Linked DNA regions of Homo sapiens: region 1 is linked to region 2. The links come from fine-mapping of genetic effects on gene expression. Tissue or cell type: cerebellum. Region 2 holds a variant in brackets; the other region holds the start of a gene. All regions are shown on one strand. Distances are between the middles of the regions.

Region 1 (9,383 bases), 49 kb before region 2:
GAAGTGGTATAAAATTGCTGGTTCTGAAATATTAACAGATAATCTTCTGAGGCAAAGGAGGCCAGGTAAGAGCTTCTTTGGTAAATTTCCAAGTTCCATGTTAAGCACAAAGTAGGGGCTTAATGATATCAACTACTGAATTCAGTGTCATTCATCTGTTTATATCAACTACTGAATTCAGTGTCATTCATCTGTTTATATCAACTACTGAATTCAGTGTCATTCATCTGTTTTCCAGCTATACCTCAATCTCATCTGAAAAGCAAAAACATCTAACCTACAGAACAATTACACTGCGGGCATATTTAGGAATTTCTAAGTATGTTAACAGTGAATCACTTTTATCCCTGAGTGGAAGGATACAATGTTAACAGTTAACTTTTATCCCTGATTGGTGACCATGGGTGGTTTTAATTTTTACCTGTATTTTATGATAATTTTCACGTTTATATAATTTTTTTTTAGTATTTTTACAACTAGGAATTTTGAACTGAGATAAGGCATTACTATTATATACTTGGCAGGTTTCTTATCTAAAACTAAGAACCAAGTATTCGTTGACTCTTCTAAAGCAATCCTGTATATTCAAGGTTGATTAATAGAGTAAAAAGTTTTTTTATAATACAAAAATTAGCCGGGTGTGCTGGTACATGCCTGTAGTCCCAGCTACTCCGGAGGCTGAGGCGGGAGAATCACCTGAACCTGGGAAGTGGAGGTTGCAGTGAGCCGAGGTCGCGCCACTGTACTCCAGCCTGGGCAACAGAGTGAGACTCCGTCTCAGAAAAAACAAAAAATTTATTTAATACACACAAAAATAAAAATATCCACGTTTTGGGGACAGTTTTCTAAGTGGAAGGTCTTAATCTCTTGGAGAAGTGGGGCATGAATCCTGCCAGCCCTTCACCTGTCTTAGAGATTGCTTCACTTTAGATAAATGGAAGCCGAGTCCTTGAAGACTCTGCTTCCTCAATTTTCTATAAATCCATGAGTTCAGCCTGGTGAGATCTTTCCCACAGCTGAAAACTGGTTTCCTGAAATAACTGATACCCAACTTCTACTACTTGCTATTATTTATCATTTTTACCTTTTAAAGTTGCAGAAAATTAAGACTGTAGGGCCCTTCCACATGGCCTAACAGGTACGGCTCGGCATTTGAATTTTTTATCTTTTAATTAATTAATATATTTATTTTGAGACAGAGTCTCGCCCTGTCGCCCAGGCTGCAGTGCAATGGCACGATCTCGGCTCGCTGCCACCTCCGCCTACCGGGTTCAAGCGATCATCCTGCCTCAGCCTACGGATGTAACTGGGATTACAGGAGCGCGCCACCATGCCTGGCTAACTTTTTATATTTTTAGTAGAAACGGGGTTTCATCATGTTAGCCAGTCTCGTCTCGAACTCCTGACTTCAGGTGATCGACCCACCTCGGCCTCCCAAAGTGCTGGGATTACAGGGGTGAGCCACCGAGTCGAGAAAATACATTCTTAAATCTTAATTTTTAAATCTCACATATAATCATTCCCAATAAAATTCTAATTTTTGATAACTACTAAAAAGCGTAAGTTAAAATTTCCATTAGCCATATCAAAACATACCTGAGATGGATTAGACAAAAACTGCAGGTGAGAAAAGTCACTTTGTTATCCACTGACTGAACATCTCCAAATAAAAACGAGTGTGGATAGTTCTTAAAACCTGCATGTTTGAAGCCAAATATTCATTTCTGTTGCATGTATTTCAAACAGCATGTATTTTAGCCCCAAAAAAGTGTCATTTCCAAGAAACACTGGAGTCAAAAGAGAGGACAGTCATATCAAATAGCCTTGATTATTCACCATGTAAACTACAGTGATTTTTCATGTTATACATATAAATTTGACCTCTTTAATCAGTTTACATTTCCTTTAGGAATTAAACCAGCTAATTCTCAGAAACCACAAGTTTATTGCTTATAACAGAAGACAAGTTATTTACAGGTTACTCTAAATATGCTGCGAGTACTTAAGGCAAAATGAGTTACCTCTAGCTTTTCATCAACAAAATGGGAATACATGGATTTTGAGACATAAAGTTTTTCCAACAATATTTTTAGGATGGGTCTTTAAACTCTGAACTCATAATCCCAGCACCACCTCAACTTTATCTCGCAAGGAAGAAAAGGGACTAGGTGCAAGTTTACCAGCACCCAAGATGGCCCTGTCACAGGCGGCACCTCCCACCACAGCCACCATTTTGACTGCAGGATATAATTAAACTACTCACGATTTTGTACCAACTGAAAGAAAACACAGGACATCAGAGTAACTGAGAAACATCCTTTGACCTTTAGGATTCCCAACTCTTTAGCTTCCGTGTCTCTGTTTCTCTTCTTTCGTCAATATTAACAGTTGTCTAAAGAATATTTTCATTAATAAAATTATGCTTGCTACATTCACGTTCAAACTTTGAAAACAAACGCTGTGGCGCCACGTAAAATGCCCGTTATTACCTCTTCCTAAAAAGTGGAGAAGCCCACATTTCCTCACATTGTTTTAATCAGCTTAAGGAACTAAGAATCGCCAAAAGCCAGTGAGTGGCCCTAGACTATCTGTCTACATTCCTCTTCATTCTCCCATCCCCAACCCTTTTGATCTTTTTATTTTCCTGATTTCATTAACTGCGACGAGAGCAAGTTCCCACACTTCATTCACAGAAGAAGCAACTGATATTTCAGCAAACACGACTAAATCTAAAAATAAAGGTGAGGCAAAGAGCTCTGAAATAAACGAGTTAAAATCAACCCGAAAATGGCACAAAGTAAGATCCGTGGGGCTGGGGAGGCAACAACAACGATTTGCTCTTCCAAAAGAGTGGCTCTAATTTTGATTACTGCGTCGGCGAACCCATCCGCAGAACAGAAAACAAAAACTGACCAACGCAGTTGCCATTCACCTTTGTCCAAAGGCAAAAGGTGAAAAGTCACGACACATATTGCCATAGAAGAGAAGGCAATTCAACCTGCCAACCAATCGACTAATTCTCAGCTCCTTCCAAAAATAAAAATAAAAATAGGAGAAAGGGGGCTGCCGCTGGGCTGGCCGATGCCTGGCCGCCGAGTGCGCCGCGCTCCGCAAGCTCCCGCCACCCGCCGCGCTCCAGGACCCTCGGGTTTCGGCCCAGTTATCACAAAGCCCCGGGCTGGAAAACACCTCCGGCCTGGCCAGAATGGCCAGCCCGTCCTCCGCGCTCGCCCGGGGGGATAATGGTGGCGAGATCAACTCCAAGGGCTCCCGAGCCCCGCGATAAAGAGGCTGGATATTACGGGAGGAAGGACGCTGTGGAAGAATAACGGAGTCCCAAACTTTCCTTCCACACCTCCAGAGCCCCGCGCCCAGGCCCGGTCCCCACCGGCCCGAAGTTGGCCGGAGCGCCTCCCGGGAGCTTGGGGCCTCCGGGAGCCCCTGCCACGCGCCCGCCCGCCAGAGCGGGGCTAGCCCTCCCCGCCGGCCGCGGCCGACTCCCGCCCCGGTCCGAGTTAATCCCGCGCGGGCCCCCCCCCCGCGCCCGGCCCCGCCGGAGCAGCTGGCTCGCGCCTCAATGGCACCGGGCGGCGAGCGCGCGCAGCCCTCGCGCCCACACCCAGCCCCAGCCCACCGGAGAAGTCCCGGGAGGGTCGCCGGGTCCCGCTCCCGCTCCCTCTCCCACAAAAGCACGGGCCCGCCCCGCCCTCGCGGTGCCTGCTCCTCCACCCCAGGATCCGGCGTCCCCGGCCCGACGCCCCTCGGCACCCGGGCACAGCCCGGCGGCCCCCGCCCGCCCTCCTGCCCTTTTGCGCCCTCCTCCTGGCCCCCGACTCCCGGCCGAAGTCCCTCGGGCCCCGGCCCCTCTGCGCGACGGCCCGGGACACCCCGCGCGGGGCAGGGGGAGCAGGGGGCGCAGCGCGCCGCCTCCCGCCCGCGCGGCCACTCACCTCGATCTCGAAGTCGGGCAGGCGGAACGCGGTGCGAAAGAGCGAGCAGAAGTGCGCGATGGCCGGGACCTCCCACCAGGAGCGGAGCTCGCCCAGCCCGGCCGCGCCGCCCTCCTCTGGGCACATCTCCCCGCTGCGGCACAGGCGGCGGCCCCTCGCTGCCCGCGCTCTGCCCGCCGACCTGGGACTCCCGCCGCGGCAGCGCCGCAGCCTCCGCGCGGTCCTCGGCGGGGGCGGCGGGGCGCTCCTCCCGCTGCTGCCGCCGCTCGGCGAGTGCAGGAGCCGAGGGCGGGCGCCGGGCGGGGGGCGGCGGCGCGGGGGCCCGAACTACTGAGGCGGCTGCGGCTGCGGCTGCCCGCGGGGTCCGCGCGCTCGCCCCATCCCGCGGCTGCGGCGGCGGCCGCCCCCAGTCCCCTACAATATAATCGAGTCCCCGCCGGAGAAACAGATGGGGCTAGGGGCGGAGGGGCCGGACGCGGGGCCTGGGGGAGGGGCCGCCCACGAGGAGGGGGCGGGGCTGCCCGCGCCACAACAACAACCCCCGCCCCCGCCCCACCCCCGCCCGGACAGCTGCACCGCCAGGGAGGGGGAGGGGCGGGGCGCGCGCCCCCGGGCCCAGATCCGCAGGACCCAGGGGGCGCGGGCCGCACCCCCGAGAACTCTCACGAGGCGCCCTCCGCCCTCCAGGACTTTGGGACTGGGGAGTTGAAGCACTTTCCCAAGGGAGGACGGCCAGGAGCTCTCCCACCCCCACTTGGCCTGAGTGGTCGCGTCCTTTTAAAGGGCCCGCGGGGTGGTCCTTTCGGTCGGGCTAGAGACAGAAACGTGCACGTGTGGGAGTTCAGTTATTATTGATGCCGAGGGCAGAGCCGGAGCAGGAGCGGGCTGTCCACCCTAGAAATATGAAGCCTAGAGAAGTGAAGTGCTTTCCACCTGTTTCTTAACGCTTTTATTCCAGCCGAGAACGGCGCCCAAGGAGCTCTGAAGTGGCTTTTTTCTCCGAGGGAAGAAGGCGGTGGGGCTGATTGAGCTGGAACGAAGTAGGATGGAGGCTGGAGAGCGGCGGGAAGGGTGGGGTAGGGGGAGGCACCAATCAGCAGCCAAGCGGGAAGAGCGATCCCCAACCCCAGGGAATGGACACGTGTGACCGCCCCGGAGAAGACGGGCTCGGAACCCTGCTACTGCCCGGCCGCTGAAAGAGCTGCCTGGAAGAGTGAGCACAATGTGCTTGGAAGGCGGGGGGATGGGGCAGAGGAGATCGGGAAGCCGGGGACTGTGCTCGGAGGGGAGGAGACCCCCACGCCCCGGCGGAGGGATTGAATGTGCTACGGCCGAAGGGTGTTGGAGTGTGTGCTTTAGAAATGCTAACTGCTGTAGCGCGGTGGAGTACTGCTAAATCCTAAGAAAAAAAATCACCCCAGAAACAGGCTAGAAGTTTGGAAAAACTCCATTGAATGCTCAGATATTTGTATTGGTCGTCGCACTTGCATCCTGCTGGTCTCAGAGGGCCGCCTCTGAGTTCGGTGGTCCACCTTTCAGATAGGAAACACTGCTCCTGGTGCGTCCCCCAAATTAATCAACTATTTATTGAGTGACAGGCACAATCACAAAGTGTACAAGGGTTAAACTCAAAGATCCTCTTCTACCTTTAAGTAGTGTACAATCTGGAGATAATTTATATGATAGATTTTGGAATGGGCTGTCTGGATAATTACCCCTCCACTCTCCCTCACTTTATTATGATAATAACTTGTTGTATTTTTTAAGGCAGCATTCAGAAACATAATTTTAAATGGTTAGAGTATATTCACGTGCATCTTCTGTGAATCTAGTAATCTCAAAATACATCATCTTCTAACAAGGGTCTCCTCCGCCCCCCACCACTCTCTCCTGGCACAGAAAAACAACCCAAAGTTCTGCTCTTTCATTCCCTGGAACTATTTGATGATTTAAAGTGCATCCTCAAATTCTACCATGCTTTTTATTTAATGTTTGGCAAAAATGAGCTCACATGTGACTGCTCCCAAAAAGCCAAGCCTACGTTTGTGTGTGTTGGTGAAGCACAGCTACCCCGTGAGTATTGCATTAGCAAGGGAGATGGGAGAGGGACACAGGCCACCCCGGAATTGTCACGTAACCTGAACGAGGTGCTTTCTGGACTTGCTTCTCCGTCTTTTATTTCCTCACAGTTTGACTTTGCACACTTTTTCCTCTGTGTGAGTTGGCCGGGCGCGGTGGCTTACGCCTGTAATCCCAGCACTTTGGGAGGCCGAGGCGGGTGGTTCACCTTAGGTCAGGAGTTCGAGACCAGCCTGGCCAACATTGTGAAACCTCGTCTCTACTAAAAATACATAAAATTAGATGGGTGTGGTGGCAGGCGCCCGTAGTCCCAGCTACTCGGGAGACTGAGGCAGGAGAATCGCCTGAACTCGGGAGGCAGAGATTGCAATGAGCCGAGATCTCGCCATTGCACTCCAGCCTGAGCAGTAAGAGTGAGACTCCGTCTCAAAAAATAAAAATTAAAAAAAAAAAGTGTTACTGCGTTTCCCTGCCTTTATCTTTTGTCATCGTTTAAGCTTCTTCCCTCGCCTCTCAGTTGTCACCACTAGCCAGCCTAGTAATATTAGTGCCTAGGATATTAATGACACCAGCAAGCAGAGGGATGAGATGATTTGGCTACCTTTTAGTACGGTAGTGTGTTTAATGTCGTTTACAAACACCACCCCAGCCCCAATTTAAAGGCTGAGCCATTGTCTTCCTGCCTCCTCCGCCTACTGCCAAGCCCCGGAAATCAACAAGACTGTCCGGGAACGGCACGCGCCCCCTGGTGCTGCTCGGAGATCCGCCCTGTCTCTCAGGGCTCCTCCTCCCTTCTGCTGCCCTTTCCTTCTGAGGGTCTTCTCTGTTCTGTGGCCCAGCACACCAACTTTAGACCCATTTCCTCCCACCATTCTCTAACTCTGTTTGTCTCTACAGTTTTTTCCCTAGTTCCTCCACCTACCCTGCTACTCTGGCCTCAACTACCCTCTGGAACGGATCCTGGCCCCAGGAGCTGAGGGGTCTCAAGTGTCTTGGAATCAACAGTAAATCTCAATCTTGAGTTCCCCGAGTTTGGGCTCCAACCAGAGCTTTTCCATTTGGACCTTCTCTGGCCCTGTTAGGATTGATACCCTGAATCTTTGACCCTGCTTTGAACATCTGTGCCACGCCTCCCCTTGGACTTAACTGCCTCGGATCTATTTTCTGGACTAACTTCCAGCCTAACCTCCTAGAATCTAGATTAATGACCCCCTACCAATAGGCTGGCCACTCACCCTTCTTCCCTTCTCCCTTTGATTCGGAGTGCTATTGTACTTCTCCAGCCTGGCCCATTCTTTCACCCTCGAAACACTAGTTGAATCATCTTCCTTAAAAACACACAGTTTGCCGGGGCGGTAGGTGACGCCTGTAATCTCAGCACTTTGGGAGGCCCAGGCAGGCGGATCACGAGGTAAAGAGATCGAGACCATCCTAGCCAACATGGTGAAACTCCGTCTCTGCTAAAAATACAAAAAATTAGCTGGGCGTGGTGGCACGCCCCTGTACTCCCAGCTACTCGGAGGCTGAGGCAGGATGATTGGTTGAACCCGGGAGGCAGAGGTTGCAGTGAGCGGAGATCGTGCCACTGTACTCCAGCCTAGCGACAGAGTGAGACTCAATCTCAAAAAAAGAAAAAAGAAAAAACACAGCTCATATTTTCTTTCCCCTTCTCATTCGTGCTGTTTTCTGTTTGTGAGCCAGTGCCATTAACTTCAGATAGTATTAAAAGTAGCAAGAAGTAATTCTTTCATATTCTCTGACCCTGAGTTCCATAATCCCCTTTGAATCAAATGTTTTCTATTTAAAAATCCCACAATAATTCGTTTGGTTTTTCTGTTTTGCTTATTCATTAATATTGCAAAAATATTTATGTTTCCCATTGCAAAATATGAAGTAATGTTAGCTATGTTGGGATTTATATAGGTTCCTGGAGGATAATCTGGGAAATGAACCACCCTTTTTTTTTTTTTACATAGGGGGTCTCCCTTTGTTGTCCAGGCTGCAGTGGAGTGGTGCAGTCATAGCTCACTGCCACCTTACTGAGCAATCCTCCTGCCTCAGCCTCCCAGATAGCTGGCACTACAGGCCAGGCTAACCACATTTTTTTGTTTGTTTTTGTTTGTTTGTTTGTTTTTCCGAGACAGTCTTGATCTGTCACCCAGGCTGGAGTGCAGTGGTGCCATCTTGGCTCACTGCAAGCTCCGCCTCCCCGGTTCACACCATTTTCCTGCCTCAGCCTCCCGAGTAGCTGGGTGTACAGGCACCCACCACCACGCCTGGCTGATTTTTTTTGTATTTTTAGTAGAGACGGGGTTTCACCGTGTTAGCCAGGCTGGTCTCGATCTCCTGACCTCGTGATCCGCCCACCTTGGCCTCCCAAAGTACTAGGATTACAGGCGTGAGCCACTGAGTCTGGCCTAACCACCTTTTTTATGACATTGTTTCTTTGGGAAATACACTGTTATTTCCAAAGGATTAATTTAAAAATGTGTGCTCTGCTTTATTATTACTGAACCTTGGAAGAGATGAACAAAGGAAAGTGTGGCTTCTTCATAACCGTCGTTAACCAGGACAAGCATCCAAATCTTTTTCTTTTTCCTTTTTTTTAGACAGAGTTTCACTCTTGTTGCCCAGGCTGGAGTGCAGTGGCATGATCTTGGCTCACTGCAACCTCTGCCTCCTGGGTTCAAGCAATTCTCCTGCCTCAGCCTCCCGAGTAGCTAGGTTTACAGGCACGCACCACCACGCCTGGCTAGTTTTGTATTTTTAGTAGAGATAGGGTTTCTTCATGTTGGTCAGGTTGGTCTCAAACTCCCGACCTCAGGTGATCCACCTGCCTCAGCCTCCCAGAGTGCTGGGATTATAGGCGTGAGCCACTGCGCCCAGCCAAGCATCCAAATCTAACTGTTCAGCCAGTTTTCTCTCTTTGGAATCATGCTACTTCTCTCTTCTTCTTCTTCTTATTTTTTGTTTTTTTGTTTGTTTGTTTTGTTTTTTGTTTTTTGAGACGGAATCTCCCTCTGTTGCCGAGGCTGGAGTGCAGTGGTGTGATCTCAGCTCACTGCAACCTCTGCCTTCTGCGTTCAGGCGGTTCTCCTGTCTCAGCCTATAGGTGCGTGGCACCACTCCCAGCTAATTTTTGTATTTTTAGTAGAGATGGCGTTTCACCATATTGGCCAGGCTGGTCTGGAACTCCGAACCTTGTGATCCACCCACCTCGGCCTCCCAAAGTGCTGGGATCACAGCACTTTGTAATCCCAAAGTGAGCAGGGTTACAAGGCGTGAGCCACTGTGCGCTGCCTCTCTCTTCTATTTAAATTGCCCTTTCTCTACCTTTGTTTGCCAACCTGACCT
Region 2 (9,383 bases):
TGCAGTGAGTCGTGACTGTGCCACTAGACTGCAGCCTGGATGACAGAGTGAGACTCTGTCTCAAAAAAAAAAAAAAAAGAAAAGAAAAGAAAAGAACTCTCTCCATTGTATTGCCTTTGCTCCTTTGAAAAAGATCCATTAACTGTATCTATGCTTGTCTGTCTGGGCTGTCTATTCTGTTCCAGCTATCTGTTTTTCTGTTCTCTTAGCAATACCACACTTGTTTTTCTGTTCTTTTAGCGATATCACACTGCCTTATAGTGAGTCTCTAAATTGGGTAGTGTCAATCCTCTGACTTTCTCCTTCTCCTTCAATATTGTGTTGGCAGGCTGGGCACAGTGGCTCACACCTGTAATCCTAGCATTTTGGGAGGCTGAAGTGGGCAGATCACATGAGGCCAGGAGTTCAAGACCAGACTGGGCAACATGGCAAAACTCCATCTCTACAAAAATACAAAAATTAGCCAGACATGGTGGTGCGCACCTGTAGTCCCCGCTGCTTGGGAGGCTGAAGTGAGAGGTCACTTGAACCCAAGAGGTGGAGGTTGCAGTGAGCCGAGACTGCACCACTGCACTCCAACCTGGATGAGAGAGCCAGATCTTGTCTCAAAAAAAGCCAAAAAAAAAAAGAAAAAAAACTTCTTTGCAGTTAACACTCCCACCAACAATATATGAAAGTTCCAGTTGCTCCATATCTTTGCTAATATTTAGTGCTGTCAATCTTTTTCATTTGATGGTATTGCATTGTGGTTTTAATTGGCATTTCAATAATGGTTTCTAATTTTTAGCATCTTTTCATGTATTTATTTCCCTTTCATGTATGTTTCTTTGTGAAGTGTCCCTTCAAATATTTTGTCCAGTTTTTTAAGAAGCTGTTTTAATTAAATTAAATTAATTAATTAATTTAGAGACAGGGTCTCGCTCTGTCACCCAGGCTGGAGTGCAGTGGCACGATTATAGCTCACTGTAGCCTCGAACTCCTGGGCTTAAGCGATCCTCCTGTCTCAGCCTCCCAAGGAGCCAGGATCACAGGTGCATGCCACCACACCTGACTACTTTTTTAATATTTTGTAGAGGCAGGGGTCTCGCTATGTTGCCCAGGCTAGTCTTGAAGTCCTGTGCACAAGCAATCCTCCCACCTCAGCCTTCCAAAGTGCTAGGATCCAGGTTTTAATTGGGTTGTTTGTTTTTATAGAATTATAGGTATGGCATTCTTTATATATTCTGAATACAAGTCCTTTGTCAGATATCTATCTCTACACATTTTTTATTTTGAAGTAATTTTAGACTTCCAAAATATTGCAAAATGGTAGTAGGAATTCCCATAGTCCCTTTACCCATATTCCCCAAATGTTAATGTTTTATCCTATTTGCTTTATCATTTATTCTGTCTATAAATATGTACATACTTATATATGTGCACATATATACAAACATATTTTTTAATATGTTTGAGAGTAAATTGCAGACAGGATGCCCTTTTACCTCTAAATTCTTCAGAGTGTATTTCCTTTTTAAAATATGTATCCTAGCTGGGCATAGTGGTGTACATCTGTAGCCCCAGCTACTCAGGGGGCTGAGGCAGGAGGATGGCTTCAGTAGAGGAGTCCAGCCTGGGCAATATAGCAAGACCCTGTCTCTAAAAAAATGAAATAAAATAACAATTTTTTAAATAATTAAAAAGTACATTCTCTTCATAACAGCGATACAATTATGCACATCAGGAAACTAACATTAATATAATAGTATTTATCTAAACTTTGACCTTCTTCATATTTCACCAGCTGTCTCATCGGTGTTCTGTGGTACTATCTGGGATCACATGCTGCATTCAGTTATTATGTCTCTTTAGTCTCCTGTAATCTGGAACAGTTTTTCATATTTCTTTGTCCTTTACAACCTTGATATTTTTGAAGGGAATAGGCCAGCTGTTTTGCAGAATTTCCCTCGTTTTGTGTTTGTCTGATCTTTCTGCAGGATTAGATTGATGATATGCATTTTTTTTTTTTTTTTTTTTTTTTTTTTTGCCGGAATACCACAGAAGGGAGATTGGGTCTTTCTCAGTGCAGCCTGTCATGATGTATGTGATGTCCATTGGTCTCATTACCGGTGATGTTAATTTAGGTCACACGGTTAAAAGTGGAATCTGCCAGATTTCTCCACTGTGAAGTTCCTATTTTTCTCTTTCTAACTAATAGGCATCTATTAGACATATGTTTTGCAAATTTTTTTCAGTCTGTGGCTTGCTTATTTTTTCTTTTCTTTTTCTTTTTTTTTTTTTTTTTTTTGAGATGGAGTCTCACTCTGTCCCTCAGGCTGGAGTGCAGTGGTGCGATCTTGGCTCACTGAAACCTCCGCCTGCTGGGTTCTAGCAATTCTTCTCCCTCAGTCTTCCAAGTAGCTGGGATTTACAGGTGCCCACCACCACGTCCGGCTAATTTTTGTATTTTCGGTAGAGATGGGGTTTCACGATGTTGGTCAGGCTGGTCTCAAACTCCTGACCTCAGGTAATCCACCTGCTTTGGCCTCCCAAAGTGCTGGGGTTACAGGCGTGAGCCACCTCGCCCAGGCCACTTATTCTTTTCTTAACAGTATCTTTTGATGAGTGGAAGTTTTTTATTTTGTGGAAGTCTAAATTGACAAGTTTTTTTTTTTTTTTTTGGTAATTATTGCTTTCCCTGTCTTCTGTAAGATATATTTGCGTACCCTTAAATCACAAAGACATTTTCTTATGGTTTTCTCCAGATGTTTTACTGTCATAGTACTAAAACTGAATAGTTTTAGGTCTCTAATCCATCTCAAATTAATCTTTGTGAATGGTGTGGGGTAAGTGGTCAAAGTTCACTTTTTCCCCATATGTTAGTTTGATTTTTTTTTTTTTTTTGAGACAAGGTCTTATTCTGTTGCCTACATTGAAGTGCAGTGACACAATCACAGCTCACTTCAGCTTCGACCTCCCTGAGCTCAGGTGATCCTCCTGCCTCAGCCTCTGGAGTATCTGGGACCACAGGCACACGTCACCACACTTAACTAATTTTTATTTTTATTTTTGTAGAGACAGGGTCTCACTATGTTGCCCAGACTGGTCTCGAACTCCTAGGTTCAAGTGATCTTCTTGCCTCAGACTCCTAAAGTGCTGGGATTACAGGCATCTCCATGCCTGGTCTTTTCCCCGATATGGGTATTTAGTTGTTCCAGCACCATTGGTTGAAAAAACTTTCCTTTCCCCACTAGATTTCTTGTTACGTTTGTTGAAAATCAAATGATTGCAGTGTGGGTCTCTTTCTTAGTTCTCTGTTATCTTTCATTGATCTGATTACTCTTATGTCTAGGCCCAATTTTTACACAAGTTATATATTGGCCAGCTCAACATAACTTCTCTATGCCTCACTTTCCCCACTCACACAATGAATTATTATACCTATAAAATTCTGTGACTCTCGGCTGGGCGTGGTGGCTTCCAGCACTTTGGGAGGCCGAGGCGGGCAGATCCTCTGAGATCAGGAGTTCGAGACCAGCCTGGCCAACATGGAGAAACCCCATCTCTACTAAAAATACAGAAATTAGCCAGGTGTTGTGGTGGGTGCCTGTAATCCCAGCTACTCAGTAGGCCGAGGCAGGAGAATTGCTTGAACCCAGGAGGTAGAGGTTGCAGTGAGCCGAGATTGTGCCATTGCACTCCAGCCTGGGAAACAAGAGTGAAACTCCATCTCAAAAAAAAAAAAAAAAAAAAAAATTAAAAATTTCTTGATTCTCCTATCCAAGACCTCACAAAAAAAAAAAAAAAATCCCATGATTCTTGGTTCTTAATACTCAACCACTCTATTTGTGCCAATTATTTTTTATACTGATTTGATAGCTTGCTGGTTTTAAAACAAGTTTTATTAATGTGAGGATCTGCCTGAATTCCCTTTTCCCCATAACTCTGTTATCTTATCTCAGAAGAATGGCTCCCTTTTTTAATGTTGACTTGAGCTGGTAACCCACCCTGCTGTGTCCACC[C/T]GTTTCTCTGGCAGGAATGTTTTGTAAACAGAGAAACCTACCTAATGTTAGGACCGGCTATGACAGTTTAGTGTTCTGCAAATAGGGTCACCATATACTTTATCCGTTAAACTAGGGCAGATTTGTGATTGAAAGACGTTGTTATTATTATTATTTTGAGAGAGAGTCTTGCTCTGTCACCCAGCTGGAGTTCAGTGGCTCACTGCAACCTCCGCCTCCTGGATTCAAGTGACTCTCCTGTCTCAGCCTCCTGGGTAGCTGGGATTACAGGCATGTGCCACCATGCCCGGCTAATTTTTGTATTTTTAGTAGAGATGAAGTTTCACCATGTTGACCAGGTTGGTCTTGAACTCCTGACCTCAAGTGATCCATCCACCTCAGCCTCCCAAAGTGCAGGCATGAGCCACCACGCCCAGCTGAAAGGGGTTATTATTAATATTGTTTATAACTCTGCCAGGACAACAGGTATAAACCAGCCTGCCCTGGGATCGATGGTGGGCCTGTCAATAAACCTCTTAGAACTCAACCAAAATCATTCATTAACAGCCATTTTTCAAATACCTAAGTGCTAAGCACTGTTACAGGTGCTGGAGACTCTAAGACAAATAAACTGTAATTCTTGCTCTAAGGAGCTTTTAGTATAGCTGGGGAATCAAACAACAGACCATTACAATGGAGCTTTTCATTTCCATGGTAGGTGTTTGCACAGAGTTCCTTATGAAGCAAGCAGAAAACCAAGGATGATTGTAGGAGGTGGCAAATTGTAAGCTGAGGAAGGCTTTTGGGTACCAGATGAACAGTTGGGATAATAACAATAACAGTATTAGTAACAATAAGTTAGATTGGCATAGCCCTTTAAATTGCCAAGAATTAGGACGTTTGCACAGAAGAAAATAGAGAGCCCCACAGTTGGCAAAGCTAGAAGAAATGACAACAGAAATTCATAAAAGACCTGAGCAGCTCCTCCTGCAATTTCCACAGAGGCCAATCAACAGCTGCTCCTCAGGGCTGGGCTCTCCACCCACTCCTCTTTCTTCATTCCGCCTGGATGAGCTTATTTATCCACACCCAGGGCCTCAAAGGACAGCTCCTGGCTGATGCCTCTTGAATGTGCATGCTGGCCCTGGGCTTTCTGCTGACCAGGGGTCTGAACATTCCCCTGTTCACTGACGGGCCCCACGGCGCTCAGACACAACATGTCTGTTTGCATTTCTCCCCTGCCCCCATCTGCTCTCCTGTGTTCTCTATTTTACAGAACGACCTCTCTGTCCACCCTATTGCTTACATATCAAAACCTAGGAATTATCCTATAGATCTCCTTCCTAGCTCCATGACCTTCTGAATCTACCTTCTTTTATATCTCCTGAGCCTGTCCTCTCCCCTCTGTTCCCACTCTCACTTGGTGATGGCTCTTGTCACATCCAACCTGGATTATTGCTGCAGCCTCTTAATTCTTCTGCCTGTGGCCAATCTGATCCCATCCAGGCTGCCCTCCTTCCCACACCCAATGTGAGTTTCTTTAAAATGCACATCTAAGTAACTCACTCCCATGCTTAAAACCCTTCATTGACTCCCCTCATTAGCTTAGCAGCTAGGACCCTTGTCAGTCAGCACCATCCATGCCTGTCTGTCTGGCCTTGCTCCACACTCACATAGCTTTTAGTAGTCCAGCCATTCAAAACCACTTGTCCTTCCTCCTGGGTCAAGCTGTTCACACCTCCACACCACTGCACTTACTGTTCCCTTTCTCCTCGCACCCCCTCCTCCCTCCAGAATCCACTTGCACCTTCTGAAAAAGCCCTTTGGAAGCCACTCCTCTAAGTTTCAAGAACACACCTTTTCCGTAGCACATTTGAGTGTCCGTCTCTCTCTCCCATGAGCCCAGGGCTTGTCAACCCAGCACTATTGACATTTTGGGCTTAAACTTCCTTGTAGTGAGGACTTCCCTGTGCATTGCAGGATGTTTAGCAGGATCCCTGGCTTCTACCTACTACGTGCCAGTATGCCATTAGCAACCTCCCTCCAAAACATGTCTGTAGACATTGCCAAATGTCCCTGGAGAGTAAAATCATCCCAGTTGAAAACCACTGCACCAGACTGTGAGTTCCAATGAGACAGAAACCAAATCTTATTTGATTCACATCCCCAGTACTTCTCATGGCGCCTAACAGGCACTAGACATTCAATAAATTGTATGTCATGAGAGAAAGAGAGAAGAAATACAGTTCAATGGTACCACCTCTAGGGAAGGCTGTTTAGTGATATCTAAAAAAATCACTAATGAGTACACCCTTTGATCTACCAATTCTTCTTCTAGGAGTTTATTCTACAGCTAGACTCATACACAGGCAAAATGATAAATGTTCCAAGTTATTTATTTTACTATTTTATTTTATCTTGAGACGGAGTCTCGCTCTGTCGCCCAGTCTGGAGTGCAGTGGCGCCATCTTGGCTCACTACAAGCTCTGCCTCCCGGGTTCACGCCATTCTCCTGCCTCAGCCTCCCGAGTAGCTGGGACTACAGGCGCTCGCCACCGTGCCTGGCTAATTTTTTGTATTTTTAGTAGAGACGGAGTTTCACCGTGTTAGCCAGGGTGGGCTCGAACTCCTGACCTCGTGATCTACCCAGCTTGGCCTCCCGAAGTGCTGGGATTACAGACATGAGGCACCGTGCCCGGCCCCAAGTTATTTATTAAAGTGTTGTTTGAATAACAAAAATCTGGAAGCCTACTAGTCCATCAGAAGGAGACTTTTTTTCTTTTTTGAGACAGAGGCTTGCTCTGTCACCCAGGCTGGAGTGCAGTGGCGTGATCTCAGCTCACTGCAACCTCTGCCCAGAGGGGGACTTTAAACAAATCATGGTCTTTCATACAGTAGAATGCTATGCAACCATAAAATGGAATGAGAAACCCTCTATTTCTGATAAGGAAACCTCCAAGAAAAAAAAAATTTTTTTTTTTGAGACAGAGTTTTGCTCTTGTCGCCCAGGCTGGAGTGCAATGGTGCAATCTCGGCTTACCGCAACCTTCGCCTCCGGAGTTCAAGCAATTCTCCTGCCTCAGCCTCCTGAGTAGCTGGGATTACAGGCATGTGCCGCCATGCCCAGCTAATTTTTAATAGAGACGGGGTTTCACCATGTTGGCTAGGCTGGTCTCGAACTCCTGACCTCAGGTGATCCGCCTGCCTCAGCCTCCCAAAGTGCTGGGATTACAGGCATGAGCCATCACATCTGGCCCCAAGAAAATTTTAAAAGCAAAATGCAAAATGTTGTAAAGAGTATGCTACCATTTGTATGAGAGGGGACAAGATAAGAATATATATTTATACTTTTTTTTTGAGATAGAGCCTCCCTCTGTTGCCCAGGCTGGAGTGCAGTGGTGCAATCACAGGGCTCACTGCAACCTCTGACTCCCAGGTTCAAGTGAGTCTCCTGCCTCAGCCTCCCAAGTATCTGGGACTACAGGTGCCCGCCACCATGCCCGGCTAGTTTTTGTATTTTTAGTAGAGAGGGGTTTTGCCATGTTGCCCAGGCTGGTCTCGAACTCCTGAGCACAGACAGTCTGCCTGCCTTGGCCTTCCAAAGTGCTGAGATTACAGGTGTGAGCCACTGCACCTGGTGGTATATTTATACTTAATATGATTTGGATCTGCGTCCCTGCCCAAATCTCATGTGGAATTGTAATCCCCAATGTTGGAGGTGGGGCCTGTGAGAGGTGATTGGGTCTGTGGGGACAGATTTCCCCTTGGTGCTGTTCTCCTGATAGTGAGTGAGTTCTCGTGAGAGCTGAGATCTGGTTGTCTAAACATGTGTAGCATCTTCCCCATCTCTCTTGCTCCTGCTCCTGCCATGTAAGATGCCTGCCCCCGCTTAGCCTTCCGCCATGAGTAAAAGCTCCTTGAGGCCTCCCCAGAAGAGGAGGCTGCCATGCTTCACAGCCTGCCGAACCGTGAGGCAATTAAACCTTTTTTTTTTTTTTTTTAAGTTTTGGAGACAGGGTCTCACTCTGTCACCCAGGCTGGAATGCAATGGCGCGATCTCAGCTCACCGCGACCTCCATCTCCCAGGCTCAAGCGATTTTCCTGCCTCAGCCTCCCGAGTAGCTGGGATTACAGGCGTGAGCCACCACGCCCAGCTAATTTTTGTATTTTTAGTAAAGATGAGGTTTCACCATGTTGGCCAGGCTGGTCTCGAACTCCTGACCTCAAATGATCCACCCACCCCGGCTTCCCAAAGTGCTGGGTTTAGAAGGGTGAGCCACTGCGCCCAGTCAAACCTCTTTCTTTATGAATTACCCAGTCTCAGGTATTTCTGTACAGCAGTGTGAGAATGGCCTAATACAACTTGTTTGTATATGCATGAAGAAACTCAGGGGGGATATCTAAGGTACTAATAATAGCAGTTTTGTGTGTGCAAGTGTGCTGAGGCTCCAGATGCCATCTGGGCAACAAAAGGACAAAGGGTGGGAGGAAGACTTTTCACCATGCATCTGTGTATACCTTCTTTTTTTTTAAATTTTTAAATTTTATTCAGACAGTGTCTCACTATGTTGTCCAGGCTGGTCTTGAACTTCTGGGCTCAAGCAATCCTCCCACCTCTGCTTCCTAAAGTGCTAGAATTACAGGAGTGGGCCACTGCACACAGCCAATACAATCTGATTTTTAAATCTTACAAATGTATTGCCTATTTGAAGTAATTTTTTTATAAGAAAGGCAGAACATTGTAATGGAATTTACATATAATAAAGTATACAAAATTCTAACTAATAGTTAAGTCAGCAGATAGAATTTCATTACAATAATTATTACTACAAAGAAGAGTACATATTAAAATATAATAAAACCTTTTCCAAACCCATGCACATTCATGTCCCATGTGAAAATACTGAATTTATTTGGTTGTAATAAAGTTCGCTCTAAGAAAGTCTCTGTGCAACAAGTGTCTTGGCTAGTCTGATGTAATGGTCAGTAAGTTGCTCCTTTCTTCTTTATCAATTATACCTTCAAGTAGCCATTCCTCTCCACATTCCCCCAGTGTTTACTGGGAAGTTACTCGAGGACGCAGCAGCAGATTCTTTGAGACACTGAAATGAACAAGACAGCTCTCTGCTCTACTCAGAGCATGTGCCCCCATGCCTCAACCCTTCACTTGGCTTAATAAGCCTTTGCTCAGACGTCTCCTCATACACTGATACCCTCTCTAAAATGGATCCCCTTTCTGCCCTCTCTCCGTCCCCTTACGCTCATTCATTTCTCTTTATGTCCCTCCTCACTATCTGACAGATGACACATTTACTTGATTAATGTGCCTCCTCTCCCACTAGAACAGCACCTGCCCCATAGTGGGCTCTCAGTACATGTTTGTCAAGTGAATAAATGAAGAAG

What was found. PIP is the estimated chance that this variant, and not a neighbour inherited with it, causes the effect.
Region 1: it holds the start of CECR2, and the variant in region 2 is fine-mapped to the expression of CECR2 in cerebellum (GTEx, PIP 0.97).

Annotation. Positions count from the first base shown.
Region 1 is chr22:17,364,477-17,373,859 of GRCh38, reverse strand. CECR2 (CECR2 histone acetyl-lysine reader) reads right to left here and starts at 4,400. Exons shown (of 19, transcript NM_001290047.2): 1 at 3,951-4,400. The coding sequence starts at 4,076. RefSeq lists silencers at 3,963-4,062, 4,073-4,142.
Region 2 is chr22:17,315,420-17,324,802 of GRCh38, reverse strand. No RefSeq gene overlaps it. Among named protein-coding and RNA genes, the nearest start is that of CECR2, 49 kb to the left of the region's middle. The variant C/T (reference allele first, on the strand shown) is at 4,002.